2 linked regions of the Homo sapiens genome follow. The protein of the gene in region 2 interacts with the protein of the main gene of each other region in a pairwise test. Each region holds a gene or a part of one and is shown on either strand. Other genes may lie near its edges.

The links.
Region 1: the proteins of ATP7A (region 2) and GLRX interact in a two-hybrid assay, tested with the Homo sapiens proteins (one study listed by BioGRID).

The regions. Positions count from the first base shown.
Region 1 is NC_000005.10:95,819,674-95,830,948, reverse strand, and holds the start of GLRX (glutaredoxin-1), read left to right. Parts: upstream 1-8,222; 5' UTR 8,223-8,286; coding exon 8,287-8,493; intron 8,494-11,275. UniProt on the Homo sapiens protein: Has a glutathione-disulfide oxidoreductase activity in the presence of NADPH and glutathione reductase. Reduces low molecular weight disulfides and proteins.
Region 2 is NC_000023.11:78,038,907-78,050,379, reverse strand, and holds part of ATP7A (copper-transporting ATPase 1), read right to left. Parts: coding exon 11,398-11,473; intron 9,790-11,397; coding exon 9,647-9,789; intron 7,796-9,646; coding exon 7,592-7,795; intron 7,064-7,591; coding exon 6,946-7,063; intron 4,911-6,945; coding exon 4,808-4,910; intron 4,087-4,807; coding exon 3,810-4,086; 3' UTR 1-3,809. UniProt on the Homo sapiens protein: ATP-driven copper (Cu(+)) ion pump that plays an important role in intracellular copper ion homeostasis.

The sequences.
Region 1 (11,275 bases), on a different chromosome or scaffold from region 2:
GGGTGCAGGCACTCAGTTTCCCTGAGGAGTGGGCTCCTGCTCCATGAGGGACACTCAGCATTCTTTTCATAGATGTGAATTCCTGCCTGTTCCATGGAGGGGTTCAAGGGAAGGCTGGACAAGTGCCCAGTGGGAAAAATGCCATGGCATGGAGGCAAGCTCACGAGGGGGTTAGAATAGATGGTCTTCGGGACCCCTTTCAGGCTTGTGTTATCCTTCCTTTAAGACCTTGGAATTTGCTCTGTAGAGCAGCAGAGAGAGCATCTGCTTTGGACCCAACACCTGAGCTTGAATCCCACATCTGGCGCTTCCTTGCTGGGAAGCCCGGGACAAAGTCTCCTAACCTTCCTGGGTCTGTTTTCTTACCTGCAAATGGCAGGTACTGATACCTACTCTAATGGGATATTTATTTGTTAAATAAATATCATTTCGATAACCTCACTGAAAAACATTTAGGCCTGGAGTAGATAAAACCTTCTTCCCAACAGCACAAGCCCCACCTTTTATTTCAGTGTTTTCAGTTTTGTCTGTCTAAGCAAGATAAAGTTCCTATTGGTGGCTCACTGGTTCTAAGGAGTTTGTGCTAGGAGTTGGCAATGAACACTGTTGGTTGCCTACCCCACAACCATTTTTCTCTTCTTCCTTCCTAGGGAATTCCTGTTTGCTAAGGAATCTACTTCTCCCCATCAGAGCTCTCCCTTTAAACTAAAGAGTTTCTGCACAGCAAAAGAAACTACCATCAGAGTGAACAGGCAACCTACAAAATGGGAGAAAATTTTTGCAACCTACTCATCTGACAAAGGGCTAATATCCAGAATCTGCAATGAACTCAAACAAATTTACAAGAAAAAAACAACCCCATCAAAAAGTGGGCAAAGGACATGAACAGACACTTCTCAAAAGAAGACATTTATGCAGCCAACAGACACATGAAAAAATGCTCACCATCACTGGCCATCAGAGAAATGGAAATCAAAACCACAATGAGATACCATCTCACACCAGTTAGAATGGCAATCATTCAAAAGTCAGGAAACAACAGGTGCTGGAGAGGATGTGGAGAAATAGGAACACTTTTACACTGTTGGTGGGACTGTAAACTAGTTCAACCCTTGTGGAAATCAGTGTGGCGATTCCCCAGGGATCTAGAACTAGAAATACCATTTGACCCAGCCATCCCATTACTGGGTATATACCCAAAGGACTATAAATCATGCTGCTATAAAGACACATGCACACGTATGTTTATTGCAGCACTATTCACAATAGCAAAGACTTGGAACCAACCCAAATGTCCAACAAGGATAGACTGGATTAAGAAAATGTGGCACGTATACACCATGGAATACTATGCAGCCATAAAAAATGATGAGTTCATGTCCTTTGTAGGGACATGGATGAAATTGGAAATCATCATTCTCAGTAAACTATCGCAAGAACAAAAAACCAAACACCACATATTCTCACTCATAGGTGGGAATTGAACAGTGAGAACACATGGACACAGGAAGGGGAACATCACACTCTGGGGACTGTTGTGGGGTGGGGGGAGGGGGGAGGGATAGCTTTAGGAGATATACCTAATGCTAAATAACGAGTTAATGGGTGCAGCACACCAGCATGGCACATGTATACATATGTAACTAACCTGCACATTGTGCACACGTACCCTAAAACTTAAAGTATAATAAAAAAAAAAAAGAAGTCAAACCATTTCTAATCTAGCAATGGGCCTCATTTTCTCTAAAAGTGGTGGTCACTCCATTCCTTTTGCTAGTCTCTGGGTTAGGAATGAGCCTGTGATGCAATTTAACCAATAACACAAGGGGAGGTTTGGTGTGGGAAAACTTTAGATTAACGCTTTCCCATTGCCTCTGGAATGGTTGTTTGCAGACACGGGGCAACAAGAGAGACTTTCCAAATGTATGGCAGAGCCTGTAGGGAGGCAGCCTGTAGGGAGGCAGCCCGTACTCCTGACCTTGGCTGAACTTCAAGTCCCTCAAGTTAGGAAGATTTTCCTTATTCTTCTAGTCAGTTTGGGATCCAAAATATCAACTTTTCAAAGTTGCTGTGATGATTAGAGATCATGCATATAAAGCTCTTAGCACTGAGCCCAGCACACAGTAGGTACATAGTAAATGGTAGCTGTCAGTGTTACTGAGTTCAGTATCACACAGCCCTGCATAGAGGTAGAAGGCAAGGAAACATCTGTCCAGAGAGACTGCAGTTAGAGCCAGAGTCAGTGCCCCCCGCAGTCAAATCTGGAGAGGGCCAGAGAGAGCTTCCTAAAGAATTAGACTCTGAAAACAAGGCACGGCCCCAAACCAGAACCTTCATTGTCTGAGGTTGAAAAAGGCAGCTGGTACCAAGGCTCTCTCACCTGAGCCCCCACAGCAGCATGCCTAAGGGGCCACATGGGCAGCCATGCTTAGTGTAGCAGCCTTGAGGGCAGCTGGAGCAATGGCAGCCCACCACCCCCTGAGCCGCCCCTTCGTACCACTTCAAGCCTTGTGGAAGCCAGGACTGGTCCCAGGGTGAACACAGAGGGACCCTGAAAGTTTTGCCAGCTCCAAAGCATTCCTGTCACTCATTAGAGCCCTTCTGTGATCAAACTGCATTTAGGTACTCATTGTGTGACTTGGGAGATGTGACACCATCATTAATACATCAAACGTTTGACTACAAATCTATCCATATATAAAGTATGCCTGTTCCAGCTCCTTGGTGCCTGTGTGTGAACTCCTCCCTCTGCAGTGTGGTAAAGTTCCCCTATTCTCTGCCTGCTCTCCAGTTGTCTCTCCTCTCCCCACGCAAACCCCTAATGCTCTATCCATGTTCAATGTCGAGCACCGTTTATGTTGTTCTTCCTTTTCCTACTCCTTCTGCCTGCAATGCCCCTCCCTTCCTTGTACACTCAGAAGCTTCTTCTTATCCCTCAAGATTCAGCCTAGCTCTCCTTTGATGTGGGCCCTTTCCCCAGTCACCCTCCAGGTGGGAGTGACTACTCCCTTTGGTTAACCTAATGCCCATACACACTTCTGTTAACTAGAACACTTTCTAACACTTGTGTCCATTTTCCTTGTTTATATTGCCCACTAAACTATAAACTCCTAAGACCTGGGGCTGTATGATGGATGTTTGTGTTTGGCTGAGAGTAGTTGATTAATAAATGTTTGTTGGATGAATGGGTGGATGGATAAGAACCAGTGTGTATCTGTTGGGCTCTGGTAATGCAGAGATAAAAAGCCCTTTCCCTGCCCTCAAGGAACTCACTGTAGATGACAGAAAATTAATACAAAGGAACAATGACATGTGATGAGTCAGGGCGCAGTATGACATGTGAGCTCCATGGAGAGGCACCCATCCCATGGGGGAAAGAGGTGTGTGTTTTGGGGTACTTCCTAGAGGTGCTAACACACCATCCTGATCTGAGTCCCTTTGGGCCAGCAGGAGTCAGCCACACAGAAATAAGAGGAAGGGCACCCTGGGCACAGGGAGCAGCAGGTCCAAAGTGTGAGTGGCAGCAATGACGAAATGGCTCAGAGTCCACACAGTTGGAGCAAAGGAGAAATTGTTGCAGAACTTTCCCCTTAGTTCCGGTAAAACTGGGCTCTTGTCACACGACCAGGAAAGATTAGGCTTGCGGACACACAGAAGGGTGAGGAAAATGGAATTTATTGGATGAAAAGGAAAAAGGAAAAATAATTCTCAGCAAAGCAAGAGAGAGTCCTGATAGCAGGTTTCCCGGCTCACAGATTGAGTTCCAGGTCAGCACACAGGAACAGGAGAGGCCAGGCTCCTCCTCGCTGCAAACGGTGCAAACTTCCCAAAGTTCCATTCCGCCTTCCCAGTGCACAGGTGGGCATTATTCAGAAAGAATCAGTCAGGAAAAGGTGGGCCTCATCCAGGACCAGCAGTCCAATTTTTGTCTTTGTTTCTGGTATTTTTTGAGACAGAATTTTGCCCTTGTTGCCCAGGCTGGAGTGCAATGGCACGATCTTGGCTCACTGCAACCTTCGCCTCCTGGGTTCAAGTGATTCTCCTGCCTCAGCCTCCCAAGTAGCTGGGATTACAGGCGCCTGTCACCATGCCCAGCTAATTTTTTTTGTATTTTTAGTAGAGATAGGGTTTCACCATGTTGGCCAGGCTGGTCTTGAACTGCTGACCTCAGGTGATCCACCTGCCTTGGCCTCCCAAAGTACTAGGACAGCAGTCCAGTTTTTCAGCCTTCAGGTTGTTTTAGACTTGGAGGCAGGGTTTCACCAGGGACCCTTGGCTGCCTCCTGTCTCTAAAATGTTGGTGGGGAGGCTGGGATACGATGAACAAGGTAGGGAGGACCCATCACACAGGGCCACATCCCCACAGGGAAATCTGGATTTTGTCCTGGGGAAACATGGACTAGTTTTTTGTTTGTTTGTTTGTTTGTTTGTTTTTTGAGTTGGAGTCTTGCTCTGTCACCCAGGCTGGAGTGCAGTGGCACAATCTCCATTCACTGCAACCTCTGCCTCCCGGGTTCAAGAGAGTCTCCTGTTTCAGCCTCCCAAAGAGCTGGGACTACAGGCACACGCCACCACGCCCAGCTAATTTTTAAATTTTTAGTAGAGATGGGGTTTCACCATATTGGCCAGGCTGGTCTCAAACTCCTGACCTCATGATCTGCTCGCCTCAGCCTCCCAAAGTGCTGGGATTACAGGCATGAGCCACCACGCCCAGCCCATGGACTAGTTTTAAGAGGGAACAAGATAGGTTCTGTATTTTTAAAGATTGCCCCAGCAGCAGTGTGGAGTAGGCAGTGAGGCGAGGGTGGAGGTGCTACAAGAGGGAGTGAAGAACTAATGAGGGCTAGAGCAGCAGGAGCAGTCAGGTGTTCAGACCAGGGAGGCACTCAGGAGGCAAACTTGGTAGGGTTTGGCCACTATGCATAAGTGAAAGCAGAGGCCAGCACAGATGCCTGCCAGGTTTCCGCCCTGGCCGAAAAGGTACATGAAGGTGCATGCAGGCTCAATGAGCAGGTATGGAGGAAAGAGGGTGGCTTCAGGGGAGATTCAGTTTTGGCTGCCTAGAGGCTGAGAGGCCTAAGGAATCCCCAGGTGGGTCTTTTCAGTAGGCAATGAGATAGCCTTCCCTGAAGCTTAGGAGAGAGGTCCAGATAAGGAAAAACGTGATGCTCATCAGTAAAAAGCTGACAGCTGGAGTCATGTGTGGAGCTACGACCTCTCAAGGAGTGGGTGTGTACACAATGAGAAGATCAAGCCCCAAGATAGACCATATGTGTAGGCAAAATTCTTAACAAAGACACTGAGACAATATCCAATAGAAAGAGCAAAAAGATCATGCTGCAATGGGCAGTGGGAAGAGAACTTCCAGAGGCCTGCAGTGATCTACAAGGTCAAACCCTGCACAGTGGGTAAGGAAAAACCCTGAAGAATGTTCGTTTGTGGCCACATTTTTTGCAGCCCTCATCAGCCTGTGAGTACAAATGAAGTCACATTGGCCGGGCACGGTGGCTCACGCCTATAATCCCAGCACTTTGGGAGGCTGAGGTGGGCAGATCACGAGGTCAGGAGATCGAGACCATCCTGGCTAACACGGTGAAACCCCGTCTCTACTAAAAATACAAAAAATTAGCCGGGTATGGTGGCGGGTGCCTGTAGTCTCAGCTACTCAGGAGGCTGAGGCAGGAGAATGGTGTGAACCCGGGAGGCGGAGCTTGCAGTGAGCAGAGATCGTGCCACTGCACTCCAGCCTGGGCAACAGAGTGAGACTCCGTCTCAAAAAAAAAAAAAAAAAAAAAAAGAGTAACCACACATATTTCACTAGCTTGTTGCCAACCATCTGTAAAGCAGGACTGATTCTCCCCTAAAAAATGCCCTCACTTCCCACCCTCCAAGGTGTATTTTCTGAGAGTGCCTGGGAGTGTCTCACACAAGCCAAAGGAGAGTCCACACGTGTTAGTCCACACGCACACCCTCTTTCCATCCACAGCACTTGACGCATCTGCAGTCCCCATGGCGGCTTTCCATTGAGATGCCCTAAGGTCCATGCTGGGTTTCAGCTCCTGCTGTACAATGCAGCAGAGGCTTCTATGCTTGTCATTTTTCACTGAGTTGAAGCCACAGCATTTTCTGAGAAATGGAGAGGACACCCGTTCTTTGCCATCTCTTTGTCTCCCATTTTCCACATGGTGCCTCACAAAAAAATTGCCTTTAGCTTGTGCCTTATGGCCATCTGTCCTAAGGCTTCAGACACCAGGCAGTCCCCGGGACTGAGTGAGAGGCAGACAATAGTCTCCCTGGATCCCAGCCTCTTGGGGCAGGTGACTAATTTGCAAAAGGTCAGGATACCTAGCTAAATGGTCATTTGGTGACATAGAGGCCATGATTAGTGTCTGCCAACAATTCAGCAGAATGGTTGACAAGGTCAGATAACAACAAAATGAGAGAATGGAGGTGAGAAAGGTACAGACAGTAAATTTCATGAAAGGGCAGAGGCAGGAAAGCAGGAAATGGGGAGTGGTGGTGGTGGTGGTGGCTTTTAACTTGAACACAGTGGCAGGCTGAGGCACCAGGAAGGGAGGAGCCAACAACAGACCGGAGAAGAGAAAGGCTCTGAGTGAGTAGCAGGTGCAAGTCGTGTGGATAAACCTCAGGCTGAGGGAACTTAAGGCAACAGCCTGAGGGCCCTGAAACAGACCCTGGACCTCCTGGCAGGGGCCTCTGGAAGGAGCCTGGCCACAGGGTTCTGAGGTAAAAGAATGAAAAAAGAGAGGAGGCTCAGACTCTGTGGCAGAGCCTACTTTGGAGGGAAGTGGGAAGTGGGAAGTCCGGAGCCCTGACCACGTGAGGGGCCTCCCAGCCCTGCCACATCCTTTTCTCTGGACAGAGCTGTCACTTAGCTCCCCCTCCGTGACTCAGAATCTGGCTTTCTCATTTTGCCATTTTAATTCTAGTAACGATGAGAGTCACAGTAAAAAGCTGCTTCTGGGAGTGGATTTTCTTCCCTTCCCTTGATCGCAGTATGCTTGGGATTCCTCTTACGTGGCAGTCGTGGTGTCCAGCTCTGGCCTTGGCCCCGCCTCTTTGAAGATACTCTGGTTTCACCATAAAACTTCCTGGGGAAAGGATGATTCACGTTTAAAGGACATAGTTTTTCCTTGATTTGTTTATTTAAGCTACCATACACTAGAGGGGGCCGGAACTAGACCCAGGAGTAGAGGACTTTGCTTTGCGGGATAAGGAGAATGGGCACCCTGGGGAAGAGCGAAAGATTTCCTACTGTTACAACCCGTGTCTTATAACACTTGAAGTGAATGTGGTGTCTGAGTTACAACACTACTTCCCCTCACAAACAGTTAAAAGCAGAGGGTCACAAACATAGGCTCAACCAGAAAAAAAGATTCTCATTTCATCTGTAGTTTTGTATCAAGGATTGTGTTGGAATTTGCCTCCATATTAAACTGCTGTTCAAGGGTTACCAACTCAAATGGTTATGGGGTGAAGCCGGTGTCTCAGGCATGGGCCTGTCGTTGGGACCTGTGGCAAACCAAAGCCACTACTTGCCCTATACAAAGGGGGCAACAGCTGTCAGCCCCAGCAGCTTCCACTAAAAGGTGCAAGCTCTGTATTGCCCGACCTGACTTTTCAGAGAGAAGTTTTAAGTCCGAATTGTTTTGTGAGACCTCCAGATTTTTAAATACTGAGAATGAATTCCATTAAAAAGATCACAACAACAAACACCCACCATACAGTCCAAGCAAAATGCTGTGAGAGCAACCTTCATGAGGAGTGCAAAGTCACAGTTTCAATTTCACTTCTTCTAAAGAGATTTCCAAGTGTTCTGTTTCTTAAGTGATTCTGTTTGCATTTTAAAATACAACTGTATCTCCTAGAGGGAAAACAAGAATTTGCTCTAAGAAGTCACTGCCTCCTCAGCCCCTTTGTGAGTAAGCACTTTATGCTTCCCCAGAGGTGACTAAACTCTGATCATTGCCAATGGGCAGGCACTCCCCAAATGTCCAAGGACAACAAAGATACCCAGAGTGTCTTTCATAGCTACCAATGATTAAATAGCAAGTATTGCATTCCTGGGCATTGCTAACTAGTGAAGTATACCAGATGGAAATGTCTTCGAAGCTGTCCCTTTAAAACTCGAGCAAGCTACCAGGCAAACTCCGCCTCCAGGGAGGTTCCTTATTAAATAGGAGCCAACTGGCTGGGTCGGGGCTCAATACCCCAAGCAATACCTGCAACTGAGGATTCTTCCCGGGGAGACCGCAGCCCATCGGCATGGCTCAAGAGTTTGTGAACTGCAAAATCCAGCCTGGGAAGGTGGTTGTGTTCATCAAGCCCACCTGCCCGTACTGCAGGAGGGCCCAAGAGATCCTCAGTCAATTGCCCATCAAACAAGGGCTTCTGGAATTTGTCGATATCACAGCCACCAACCACACTAACGAGATTCAAGATTATTTGCAACAGCTCACGGGAGCAAGAACGGTGAGTTTCATTTTAAACGGCTAGGGAAAGGCTCCCGGATTGCCTTTTCTTGTCAGAGCTGTGCCTTTCTTTAGGATAAGGCTGCGGCTCCGTACTTCAAGGCGTCCAGAGGGCTGTGCGGGGCGGGGGGTGTGGGGGAGGGCGCCTTAGAGAGGATCTCGGTCACTTGAATGAGCGGCGGCACTGCAGCCAAAGGTCTTCACGGGGCAGAAGAGGGAGTACAGCTGATGTCTGCTGTGCGGCAGGGTAAGTGGGACCAGCAGCTTGCCGGTGAGTCCCTGGGGAATTATCTAGAGTCTTTGTTTTAAGCACTGCCAGGAAATGACAGTTTTCAGTTGGCAGGGCTGGAGGTGGAAGCTGGGGTGGAGGGCCGGGTGTGATGTGTTTGTTATTTAACATGAGATTCATGTTCTTCATTCTTTTCTCTAGGCTTTCTTTTTCTAATTTGCTCATTCTTCCTTATCTAATTCCTCCCACTGGAAAAATCTAATGTACCGTTATCTGCCCCTTGTTCTAAATTAATTATGGATGTTTCCAGGCCCCACATTGTAGGGAATCATAGCCTGGAGTTCTGGCCTGGCTCTTATAATGGCTGGCTGTGTGATCCTGGGCAAGTCACCACCCCAGTAGTCCTCAAAGATCCCAGCTGCAAGACCAGATTAGGTGACCTCAGAGTCCCATTTGCTACGAATAGACTGTGGGACCCTCTAAAAATTGCTCTCCTCCATCCGAAAGACTTCCCTCTCTTCAGCATCCTTGGCTTTGCGTCCTGGGCTTCAGGAGGGATGCCAGCCACATCACCTGTATCAGTTCTGCTGTGAGGTGGGATGAGAAATGTCCCACCAGCTCAGCTAAGTTCTCTTTTACGATGCACGAATTCTACAGCACAGTGTTAGGCCAAGCACATATCCTATTTCAGTTTTAGTTTGACTTACAAGGTTGTCTCTGGGTTCTGAGTATAAAGCATTGGAGGTTGTTTCTCTCCCCTTCTCTCTAATAAGAAGTCAGCATTTTGGTGCAGAAAGGGGGCTTAGTGTGTTATCCTACTGCTGTGTGCTGAGGTCCTGGAGTATACACAATGACGAGAGAAGCTCTTGCTGCCTAGTGGGACCACCAGCTGCATAGGATGCCCAGGCCCTGAGAGGTGTAAAGGGCAGTGCAAACACTACTACGGGCCCCACTGTGGCTGCCACCCTGAGGACCTTTTAGCCATTGGTTCCCAAACTTTGCTGCACATTAGGATCACCTAGAGAGCTTTTAAAACAATCCTTATGCCCAAATTATGCCCCTCAATAACTAAATCACAATGTCAGAGGTGGGAGCCAAGCATTAGTTTTGTTTGTTCGTTTGTTTTGAGACAGTTTCATTCTTGTCACCCAGGCTGGAGTGCAATGGTGCAATCTTGGCTCACTGCAACCTCTGCCTCCTGGGTTCTCCTCAACCTCCCAAGTAGCTGGGATTACAGGCGCCCACCACCATGCCCAGCTAATTTTTGTATTTTTAGTAGAGACGGGGTTTCACCATGTTGGCCAGGCTGGTGTCGAACTCCTGACCTCAGGCGATCCACCTACCTCGGCCTCCCAAAGTGCTGGGATTAAACGGGTGAGCCACCACACCTGGGATTTTTATTTGGAAAAATCCCTTGGGGATTCCAATGTGCAACACAATTGGGATTATTGTTCTCAGCCCAACAGCATCTATTTTCCAGGAGGTAAAGCAAACCTCTTCATGTGTTCATTTAACAATTGCTTTTTTTTTTTTTTTGAGATGGAATTTCGCTCTTGTCGCCCAGGCTGGAGTGCAGTGGTGTGATTTTGGCTTACTGCAACCTCCACCGCCCAGGTTCAAGCAATCAAGTAGCTGGAATTACGGGCACCTGCCACCACACCTAGCTAATTTTTGTATTTTTATTAGAGATGGGGTTTCACCATGCTGGCCAACCTGGTCTCGAACTCCTGACCTCAGGTGATCCACCCACCTCAGCCTCCCAAAGTGCAGGTGTGAGCTACCACACCTGGTCAACAATTGCTTTTTCATTTCTTTGTAGAACAACAATATTTCTTGTAGTAATCTTTTAAGGTTTTTTTTTTTTTTTTTTTTTTTAAGAGACAGAGTCTTGCTCTGTCACCCAGGCTAGAGTGCAGTGGTGCAATGATAGCTGACTGCAGCCTCGAACTCCTGGGCTTAAGTGACCCTCCCACCTCAGCCTCCCGTGGCTGGGACTACAGGCATGAGCCATCATACCCAGCTAATTTTTTAAGTTTTTGTACAGATGGGGGTCTTGTTATGTTACCCAGGCTGGTCTTGAACTCCTGGCCTCAAGCTATCCTCCCACCTCAGCTTCCCAGAGTGCTGGGATTACAGATGTGATCCACCTCAACAAGCCTGTTTTTCATTTTTAGAAAAATGTTTTTCACAGATTCTTGAATTCTGAGTGCATTCCTCCTAGGGGAAGAACAAGCCTTTTAAAGCTGCATGTTTGATCCCCAACAGGGAAGTGTTTGTATTCAAAGGGTCTGAAAGCTCCCGAGGGTTTTTTTTTTTTTTTTTTTTTTTTTGAGACGGAGTCTCCCTCTGTGCCCAGGCTGGAGTGCAATGGCGCAATCTCAGCTCACTGCAAGCTCCACCTCCCGGGTTCACGCTATTCTCCTGTCTCAGCCTCTCGAGTAGCTGGGACTACAGGCGTCTGCCACCATGCCTGGCTAATTTTTTGTATGTTTAGTAGAGACGGGTTTTCACTGTGTTAGCCAGGATGGTCTCAATCTCCTGACCTCGTGATCCA
Region 2 (11,473 bases):
AATTATAAAGTTGAAGGCACATCCTTGGCAGAAATATGATCAATTACATGCTTATGAAAAACAAACTACTGAATATCTTAACTACAGTAGATGGATATTGCACAACATCGTCCACTGCTGTTTTCGGTACCAAACAATCAATGTTCAACAACGTTTAGCTAAACATTTCTTTAACTAAAAACGTAAGGTTGAGACGCCTGGTTTTGGCTACAAAAGGCATTTGTTATCAACACTGTGAAAGAAGCTCTTTTAACTGAAGAACAAGAACTCATGCTTTGTGCTCTATCTGGTTACTCATACCAGATGGAGGGACTGCAGAAAGTTAGTGTAAAAATAGGTAATAATTTGGCATGAATCTATATTTTTTCTATTTTGTAAAATAATACTTAAAAATGTAGAAAAGAAACAAAACAAACAAAAACCCAAAAGGAGTGATTCCAGGAATGTCTTTATTCTTTTTAAAATAACCAGTAACCAGATGCCTCACCCAGAGAAAAAAACAAAATGGAGTAAAATAAATATCAAGAAAAATCATTTTAAAGCATGATCCATAAGTAATAGAAAAAATTCTCTTAACATACATTTTTGATTTTAAGCTGTATACAGAAAAGATATGCGCACTTAAAGTTTTGGAAACATCTTGTCTACAGTGCTATTTTAAGCATTCTATACATATGAATAAAGAATACTTTTTAAAAAATTAAAGCACAATATAAAATTACTTGTTCACAAGGCATCAAATTTGACATTCTAAAATGTTGATACTAAACTAGGAAAAATAACGTTTCTATTTTCACAAATGACACACCATACATCTTGAGACTACAATACTACTACTCTAGCTGTGTTTTAATCTTTGAAATTCAAAAGGCATCTTTGGATATTTAAGTTTAAGGTGCCACATAGGTGAGTCTGAACCGGCACTGGATATTAAAGTATCCTTGTTATCTTCAGACTAAGGGCATGGTTGCTGAGTGAATACAGAAGAGTGATAAATGAAATATAAATAGAGAACTTCAAATATTCAAATATCAAATTCAAATATAAATCCATTTCCCTTCAGTATGGTAATATGTATGTATGTGTATGTACATATATATGTGTGTATATATATATGTATGTGAATACACAGAAATACACATTTATAAAATTTCTCATTACTAACTCCTGACTTAAAGCTAGCTACTAACTGAAAGCAGTATTTTTGATTCCCTCCATAATCACCTCTTTCTCCTGTAAATACAGCTTCTCTTTGAAGCTAATGAAAGTTCAAGATTGCAAAAAAGACTTGTGGTAGAGGATTCAAATGTGGCTACATATTACTTAAAGCAGGACTTTTTCTAATTAGCATGTTTTCTGTTCTTGTTGTAAGAGCTGAAATTATCTCTTTGATTATTTCAATACTACAAGCTGCTATTCCCACTGTCCCACAATATGAATACAAGACCAAGAGGATGACTCCAAGGTACACATAATAATGGAAGAATAACTGGCTGTGTTCAACTGCTTGAGGTGGGTGGGAGGGAGAAGGAGGCATGCTTCTTTTTTCAACATTTACCCTATCAGCTCTGTCTTCTAGAAGAAACAAGTTGTATTATAAGATGGGCCACTGGAATTAAAATAATAAATAATAAAACTCAAACTGAAAGCATGGAGGATGGCATAGGCATTGGTCTAAAAAAAGGGCCTAGATATGCAAACCCATTGATATTTCAGTGAAATGGGTTTGCCTTTCTAGATTAATAGCACCTTCATCAAAAGCTTCAGTTCTCTCTTTAAGACAGCTGAGACAGAAATTAGATCTTTTCTAAATCTGAAAGACAGCATGGAATAAGGTTGTAAACTTTGCATGTGTATATATGAAAGGATAAAAGAGAAAAGGGGTAGGAAAGGAAGAACTCCATCCCCTACCCCCACCTGATTTTAAGACTCTGCTCTAGAAAAATGATTTTTTTGTATTTATTACTGACCTCAAGGGGAGAAAAGAACTAACATTTACCGAGTACAAATCCTATGTGCCAGATGTTGGGTTAGCAGCAGCTTTGCTTCTGGTAATGGGAACAAAATGTTAGGAATTTACTTATGAGTCCTCTTCATTTACATATTCTGCATATGAAATCCATCTTGCAACTAACAAAGAAATTTAAATAGTCTTACAAGTACCAGATCTCTGACCAGTGTATTAGCTACCAGGCACTCACAAGGGAATTTCTAAATCCATTTGGCAATGGGAACAAGCTCCTAAATTTGCCAACCACACTAACTAGGCAAGTTCAAATGTTTTAAACTAGAGAAGAGTATATATTTAGCTAAAAAGCGTCATAACCTAGGGAAATTTTAGTTTCTGTATTATGATTTTACTGTATTTTTTGGTAAATGCAGCTTTGTGTAATAGCATTATTTTAAAGTCTTTTTGAGAGGTTATCTGAAACACTAAAAGATAAATAAAATCTATTAAATTATATATACTAGCAAAGTGATTATACTCAATTCAAAAAATACAAATTTAGGCTGGGCATGGAGGCTCACACCTGTAATCCCAGCACTTTGGGAGGCCAAGGCGGGTGGATCACCTGAGGTTAGGAGTTTAAGACCAGGCTAGCCAACATGGCGAAACCCCGTCTCTACTGAAAAATATGAAAATTAGCCGGGTGTGGTGGCAGGCACCTGTAATCCTAGCTACTCAGGAGGCTGAGGCAGGGAGAATTCCTTGAATCCGGTAGGCAGAGGTTGCAGTGAGCCAAGATGGTGCCACTGCACTCCAGCCTGGGCTGCAAAACAAGACTCTGTCTCAACAACAACAACAACAACAACAACAACAACAAACAAATTTAGTGAATCCAGGTAATTTTATATGACCTGTATATGTATAATAGTTTTAATCTTTGAAAATTTTTTGAGCAGAAAAGGCTCATAATGTTAAGTTTCCAGACTGAGATCAGCAGACTACATGAAGAATAACTTAGAGTCCAACTTGGCAGGAGTGAACTGAAACTGAGCACAGAGCTAGGAAACTTGAAGGAATAATTTGATATACTTTTTACAACAGTGGAAAGATGGGAGGCAGGGAACCCTACAGACCTTTAAGGTCTTTTGAGCTACAAAATTTAAAAAGGAGCAAAATATTAGAACAGTTGTCAGTTATTTTTAATCAATGAAAAACCACCTAAACTTGGTTAGCTCGAAAGAAAATAACAAAAGAAGACATATTGGAGCATCTAAAAAAGCACCTGCAAGGACAAGGATGCAGGGAGAATGGGGGAAAGAAAGCCTGCAATAAATAAGGCACATCTATTTTTAAACAGTTTCAACTGTTTCCCTTCTAAAACTAGATGTTTTATACACAGTGCTTTGAAAGTCATTGCTCCCCAGTGGGGCAGGGATACAGGCTTGAGAGTATCTTCAATATTTTGAGTTCAAAAGCATGAATATCTTCATGCTCTCAAATCTTCAAATTTTTCATTTTCTTCTTCTTGGGCCTTTTTTTTTTTGGTCAAATAAAAAAAAAATCACTTTAGCAGCAGTTCAGCAATCTCTAATTGTAGGGCTTGTTGTAAACCTCACTGCTCTACCTTATCTGTTGTTAGTGAAAACAAAAATATACTGGAAATTCAGTTTAAATAAAGCTAGGTTCAGAGCTGATGCCTTGAAAAAGATATTTTTGCCAACAGATAAACGCAACTCAAATAGAATCCCTAATATAAGAGCATGAGAAAAATCCTTCTACAATATTTTGAAAAGTGAAGGTAACATCATGAATGCTGTGTCAGTGCATGACAAGTTAAACTGGCAGCACTCTCCATGGCCTTTTATAATGCAGTGTCATCATCTTCCCTGAAGTCTCCCACCAGGAGTGAGTGCTTGTCAGGTTCACTGGTAACAACACTGTTTAGGGAGCGTTTATCAGACAGTAGTGAGTTTATAGAGGCTCTGCTATAATTAACAATCCGGTCCAGCAAACCCAGTTTAGGAGAATTCCTTGAGGTATCATCTATTCCAACATGAACGCTGATTTCTGAAGGACTCTTCTGTCCTATCTGGCTCCGGGCAGGCAGTTCATAACTCTCGTAAGTTGGTTTCCTGTAACTGGACATATGCAAAAGTATGCTAGTTTCAAATAACCAAAAGTAAATGAGATGCTCGCTACATGCAGAAAAGAAAGAAGATTTGCTCATCCACACTTAGTTTTGGTATGAAATGTATAAAGGTGATCACTGGTAGGAAAATAGCTTGAAACGAATTGTGTGGAGTTATATCATCAGAAACCCTACTTCTCAGAATTAGTGCACTATATTTTATCCCACTCAGTGCTTGTGGTTGCTATGCATAAAGTACACGAAGTAACAATTACATAGCTAATTATTACTGTTAGCTAATAATAATTCTTTTCTTTTTTTGAGATGGAATCTCACTCTGTTGCCTAGGCTGGAGTGCAGTGGCACGATCTCAGCTCACTGCAACCTCCACCTCCCAGGTTCAAGTGATTCTCCTGCCTCAGCCTCCCGAGTAGCTGAGATTACAGGTGTCTACCACCATGCCCAGCTAATTTTTGTATTTCTAGTAGACATAGGGTTTCACCATATTGGCCAGACTGGTCTCAAATTACTGACCTCAGGTGATCTGCCCACCTCGGCCTCCCAAAGTGCTGGGATTACAGGTGTGAGCCACCACGCCCGGCCGCTAATAATAATTCTCATTAAGAATGGTTTGGGCTTATCATTGATCAATACAAGAATAAAACCTACCAAGAATGACTAGATGATAACAGGAATACAAAATACAAATGTGAGCAAGCTATCATACTTACAGTTTAAGGAAGAGAGAAGAAAGTACTACAGAAACAGATGAAGCAGCCATTGCTGCAGATCCCATCCAGGGCTGCAAAACCAAACCAATGGGCATAAAAACTCCTAAGAAACAAGTATGGATTAGTTAGAGTAGATAATACTAAACAGATTATTAATGTGTTTCTAACATACATACAAATCATTTCTTTGTTTGATACTTCTTCAGCATTTATCCTCTTGGTGGTAGAGATTTTTGTTGTTGCCATTTTTTTCACTAACAGAGTGTTGCTGTTAACATTCTTGTACATGTCTCCCCGTGTCCATGTTTGAGAGTTTCTGTGGGGTATATACCTAGGGGTGAAACTACTGGGTCATAACATGGGCACATCTTCAACTTTACGTGGATATTCCTCAGCTGTTCTCCAAAGTGGCTGTAGTGATTCAAAATCCAACCAATAGCGTATGGGAGTTCATGTTCTACAAACTCATCCACACTTGGTTTTCACAGACATAAGAATGTTTGCTCACATGATGAGGATGAAATAGACTCATACTTTTAACTTTTTATGTGCTTCTTTATATTTTTCTACTTTTTCTATGGTGATCATATATTACTTGTATAATTATTTAAAAATCACTTGCTCCATGAATTAATCTTACTGGACTTAGATTGTTCTTTTGTTCTTTGTTCTCTCAGTATTTGTGTGTCCTTGCTGATAAACAGTTTTGTAATTGTTCTCATGTCATTTCTTGTCTTTCCTTGGCCCTCAAACCAGAGAGAACAAGAAGAAAACAATACTTATTTCTTTTATGTCATCATTACTAACTCCTACCAGGTCCCTAAGTTTAGGAGATTCTCAGATGCTTATTAAATAACTCTAAATTCTTTTTTCTCAGTTATATTGCTTTGTTCACTCTCTCTGTCATCTGGTCTCTCAACCTAAAAAAAATACCAGCTGACTATAATAGAATATTAAGTGAAGAGCAGAAAATTCTCCATAAGCTACAATCACAACTATGTAACAAGACAAAAACTGATGTAGAGTAAAAAAAAGACTAGAGGAAAATACTTGTATAATTCTTTAAAAATCATTTGCTCCATGAATTAATCTTGCAAACAGTGTTGGGTTTGGGTAGTCAGATTAAAGGTAAATCTATTTAGAAAAAAATTAATAAGCAAACAAATACATATCTCTGTGCAAATATATGCAGAAAGAGATGAAGCAATGTGGCAAAATACCATCAGTTGGTGAGTTTAGGTGAAAGGCATACAGATTTTTATTGTACCATTTTTTTCAATGTTTTTGGAGGTATGAATTTTTTTTTTTTTTTTTTTTGGAGACGGAGTTTCGCTCTTGTTGCCCAGGCTGAAGTGCGATGGCGCGATCTTGGCTCACCACAACCTCCACCTCTTGGGTTCAAGCGAGTCTACTGCCTCCGTCTCCCGAGTAGCTGGGATTACATGCATGTGCCACCACGCCCGGCTAATTTTGTATTTTTAGTAGAGACGGGGTTTCTCCATGTTGGTCAGGCTGGTCTTGAACTCCCAACCTCAGGTGATCCGCCCACCTCAGCCTCCCAAAGTGCTGGGATTACAGGTGTCAAGTTTGAAATTTTTCAAAATACAAAGTTGAAGGCTGGGAGTGGTGGCTCACAGCTGTAATCCCAACACTTTGGGAGGCCGAGGTGGGTGGATTACCTGAAGTCAGGAGTTCGAGACCAGCCTGGCCAACATGGAGAAACCCCGTCTATACTAAAAATACAAAAATTAGTTGGGCGTTGTGGCGGGCACCTATAGTCCCAGTTACTCAGGAGGCTGAGGCAGGAGAACTGCTTGAACCCAGGAGATGGAGGCTGCAGTGAGCCGAGATTGTATGACTGCACTCCAGCCTGGGCAACAGAGTGAGACTCTGTCTCAAAAAAAAAAAAAAAAAAGTTGGAGGGAAAAAAATAAATCTGTCAGAATGCTTATATATTCTTAAGCTATAACAAACATTACTGAAAATTAAAATGATTGATTTTAACATTACCTCTCACCATACCAGTAGGCTACAAACAAAAACTAAGCTCAAAACTAATAGTAAGAAGACAGGCTTCCAATATGTTAGGTCTCTAATAACTTTAGTGGAAAAAGCAGTACTAGTTAAGAGTCACATACCAGCAGCTATGGGAATTCCAACCAGATTATAAATTAGAGCAAAGACAAAATTTATCCGAATCCTCTTGACTGTCTTTCTTGATAAGTCAATACTTGCCACTACATCCAGAAGATCATTCTAAGAACAGAAATATTTGTGATATTAGTAAGAGACTCTAACTTAACCAGTAACTTTTACATTTGATACTGTGTATGTTGAAGATTACGTCTACCTTAGGGTAATATGTGAATTAATTACAAATCTCAGATAATGCTAAAACTTAGACTCAGCTTCCGAAGGTGTTTTTCAAAAATTTTCCTCAGGGTTCTGAAAACACTTTTAGGGGTGTATGCTGGTACTATGATTAAATCTACTTAAAATAATCTCAGCAACTATTTGTTGAAGATCATTTTATTCCGAATCCATTCTTAAATCTTCTTCTTCACTTCAGAAACTTATAATTCTCACTTGCTTATGAGCTGGGTTGAGAAAGTCAGGGGGTAAATTAGCATGACTTCCCATAATCCCACTCCATATTCTTAAACTCTTAATGGCTGATAGCATGGAACTTAAGACAGAATTGTTATGCTCAATATACTTTATGACATTATCATTGACCACATAGGGCAGTCTCATACTCCTCAAAGGTCAAGCCATGGCACTTACCCTTATCAAAACCACATCAGCTGCTTCAATGGCTACATCTGTGCCTGTGCCAATAGCAATTCCCACATTAGCCATTGCCAGAGCTGGGGAGTCATTGATTCCATCTCCCACCATTGCTACCCGTTTCCCCTCCTCTTGAAGTTGCTTCACTTTAGCAACCTTGTGAGAAGGTAGAACTTCAGCAAACACCTTAGTAATGCCAACCTATGTGATGAAAATAAACTCAATTCATTTAAAAAATAATGAGTACGTGAAACATAACTGAGCAATAACAAGCCATCAGTTTTCACCCACAAGATGTCCACATTTTAAAAGACTGATAATATCTAGTGATAGCAAGGATGTGGAGAAATGAGCTCTCTTATACACCAGTGGCTGGTGTGTAAATTGTAACTCTTTTTGGAGGGCATCTGGCAGCATCTATCAAAATGTGAGCATCATTTGGTCTAGCAATTCCATGTCTAGCTCTATCTTGGACAGGCTTGCACATGTACAGAAAGATACATGTCCAAAGATGTTTATTATTGCCTTGTTTGCAAAAAGAAAATTTTCAAAACCACCCAAATGTCCATCATTAGGGAAATGGTTAAATAAATTATGATACATCCATACCATGGAATTCAGTATAGAAAGAATAAAGTAACTTTGTAACTTTTTTTTTTTTTTTTTTTTGAGACAGAGTCTTGCTCTGTCACCCAGGCTGGAGTGCAATGGTACCATCTCGGCTCACTGCAACCTCCGCCTCCTGGTTCAAGCGATTCTCCTGCCTCAGCCTCCTGAGTAGCTGGGATTACAGGCATGCGCCACCACACCCGGCTAATTTTTGTATTTTTAGTAGAGACAAGGTTTCACCATGCTGGCCAGGCTGGTCTCAAACTCCCGACCTCATGTGATCTGCCCACTTCAGCCTCCCAAAGTGCTGGGATTACAGGCGTGAGCCAACAAACCCGGCCAAAATAACTTTATGTTCAGATATGGATGAAGCTCCAAAGTATACTGTTACGTAAAAAAAGCAAACTACTGAACAATCTGTTCAAAATGATCTGATGTTGAAAAGACCAGAATTATACTGTATATGTACTCTGTATATGCACATATATGCATATGAAAAAGTGGCAGTGTGAGGGGCAGTAGGACTGAATGGGGAGCATGGGGAAAAGAGGACATTTTTACTTTATATCCTTCTGTATTTTTTACATAAGAAGGTGTTAATAGGCCGGGTGCGGTGGCTCACACGTGTAATCCCAGCACTTTGGGAGGCCGAGGCGGGCGGATCACCTGAGGTCCGAAGTTCACGACCAGCTTGACCAACATGGAGAAACCCTGTCTCTACTAAAAATACAAAATTAGCCGGGCGTGGTGGTGTATGCATGTAATCCTAGCTACTCGGGAGGCTGAGGCAAGAGAATCGCTTGAACCCAGGAGGTGGAGGTTGCGATGAGCCGAGATCGCGCCACTGCACTTCAGCCTGGGCAACAAGAGCGAAACTCCGTCCCAAGAAAAAAAAAAGAAACAAAAGAATGTATTAAAAGATTACTTGCATTATTTATTAGAAGAGGGGAGAAGGCATTCCAAAGTTAAAAAGATTGAAAAATTTTAGAGATAAGGCAGATGTGGGAGTCAGGAGCAGAAAAATGGTATGTCAAAGTGGTGCATTAGGAAAATAGTTCCATTGGTGGTGGTATTTAGGATGGACTAGAGAGGGATGTGTGTGGAGCTATTGCTGTGTTTCAGGCATGAGATCAGGAGAGCCCAGCTTAGGTTGGCAGCACTGGTAAAGAATATGAGCAACATTTCAAAGGGCACATCAACAGAAATTGGTGTACAGTGTCACGCAAGCATCCCATGAACTAAGCAAATACCTTTTTACGTATAACAGCAACACACAAAGCCCAAAGTCTTTCCAGCAAAGCATGGTAAATTTTCTTGAAGGAACCAGATAGGACTACTCAGTGATAATGAAAATAGTAGGTAATGTAAATTTCTTAGCATTTGAAGGCAAGATATAAAATGTATATCAATAATTAGAAGTTATCACATACCCCTATCAATTACCTGAGAAGCAATAGATCTAGCTGTTTTACTGTTGTCTCCAGTCATCAGAACTACTTCTAAGCCCATAGATTTCAGAATATGGATAGCCAGTTCTGCTTCAGGCTTCACTGTGTCTGCAATGGCTATCAAGCCACACAGCTCATCTAATATAGGGGCAGCACAAAATAAAAGAACTTGGAATATAGTGAAAGGAGAATAACATTTTGACTTGAAATTTCAGAATGAAATGAATTTTCTCAAGTAAAGTTGTTCAGGGCATGGCTTAACTTAAAATATCTCTAAGCCCACACAGACTTTATACTACAAACTCTGTAACAAGCCTCCATATTTGGTTATGAAAATTTCAGAGTGAGGTAGGGGTTACTAATAAAGTAATCACAGGAAAATAAAAAGAGAGACCTTACTGGATATTAGAAGACCCTTTTTGTTCCTCAGAAAGGTATTTGCCAACAGCCTCAAACACTTTATCTAATTTATAGGCAAATGAAACTGAAGATTAATACTTTTTTTCTTTTTAAGGTAAGGGGGGGGGGGCAGAGAGAGACAAAATGGGCACTTTATAGTGGGAAAAATATTACCATAAATCTTATTATTTTATTCTATTTACAAAACAAAAGTAAAATGGTATTCTCTGCTTCTTCCCAGACCTAAAAAGGCCATAGTAAAAGACTGCCTTCATACTTAGCAGACATTATAAATGTAGAGTGGAATTAATCTCACAACTAGAAATTTACCCTAAGAAATAACAAAATAAAGCACATACAACCTCAAAGATATTTATTGTAGTGTCATTTACAATAGTGAAATATTAGGAATAGCCTAAATTTCCAACAAGAGGGGAATGATTATAGTGTGTAAGATTGATAAATTATGCAGTATTATAGTAAAATTATATAGCAACATTAGAAAGCATTAAGTAAAATAAAGCATAATAAAATAGTATGTGTACAAGTGATTTTAACTTTATTGAGGTAAAATTTACTTACGATAAAATGTACCCAGTAAAAAATGGTATATGTACTAATACTGTAATTCTGCAAACACACACACATTTCAAGAAAACTAGGAATGGAATATACAAAATTAAAACTGACGTTGTGGGCTGGGCATGGTGGCTCACGCCTGTAATCCCAGCACTTTGGGAGGCCGAAGTGGGTGGATCACCTGAGGTCAGGAGTTCAAGACCAGCCTGGCCAAGATGGTGAAACCCCATTTCCACTAAAAATACAAACAATTAGCCGGGCATGGTGGTGCGCGCCTGTAATCCCAGCTACTTGGGAGGCTGAGGCAGGAGAATCGCTTGAACCCAGGAGGCGGAGGTTGCAGTGAGCCGAATCACATCATTGCACTCCAGTTTGGGCAACAAGAGAGAAACTCCGTCTCAAAAAAAACAAAAACAAGAACAAAAACAAAACAAAGAAACAAACAAAAAAAACCTGACATTGTGTTAGGATGATGGGATTACGAATATTATTTTACTTTGCTATTATTTTACTGTTGCTATTTTTAGGTTTTAAAAAATCCTTGATTAGCCTTCATTTAAAACATAGGCTAGGGAAGAAAGTAACAAAGGCAGGCAAATGCGAGAGAATTTTAAATTAATCAGTAATAATCATGTGTTGTTGACATTTTCATTTTGCATTCAAGATGCTTTTGAATAACCCTCATAGTTCAGAGGTCTCTCAAAAATAAATAAATTAATAAAACAATAACAAAACATTGAGTTATAGCATACTTATGGAAAACCTTACCATCAACTGCTACTAATACAGCAGTCCGACCTTTTCTCTCATGTTCAGTCATGAAATCATTTACATCGTTATTAAT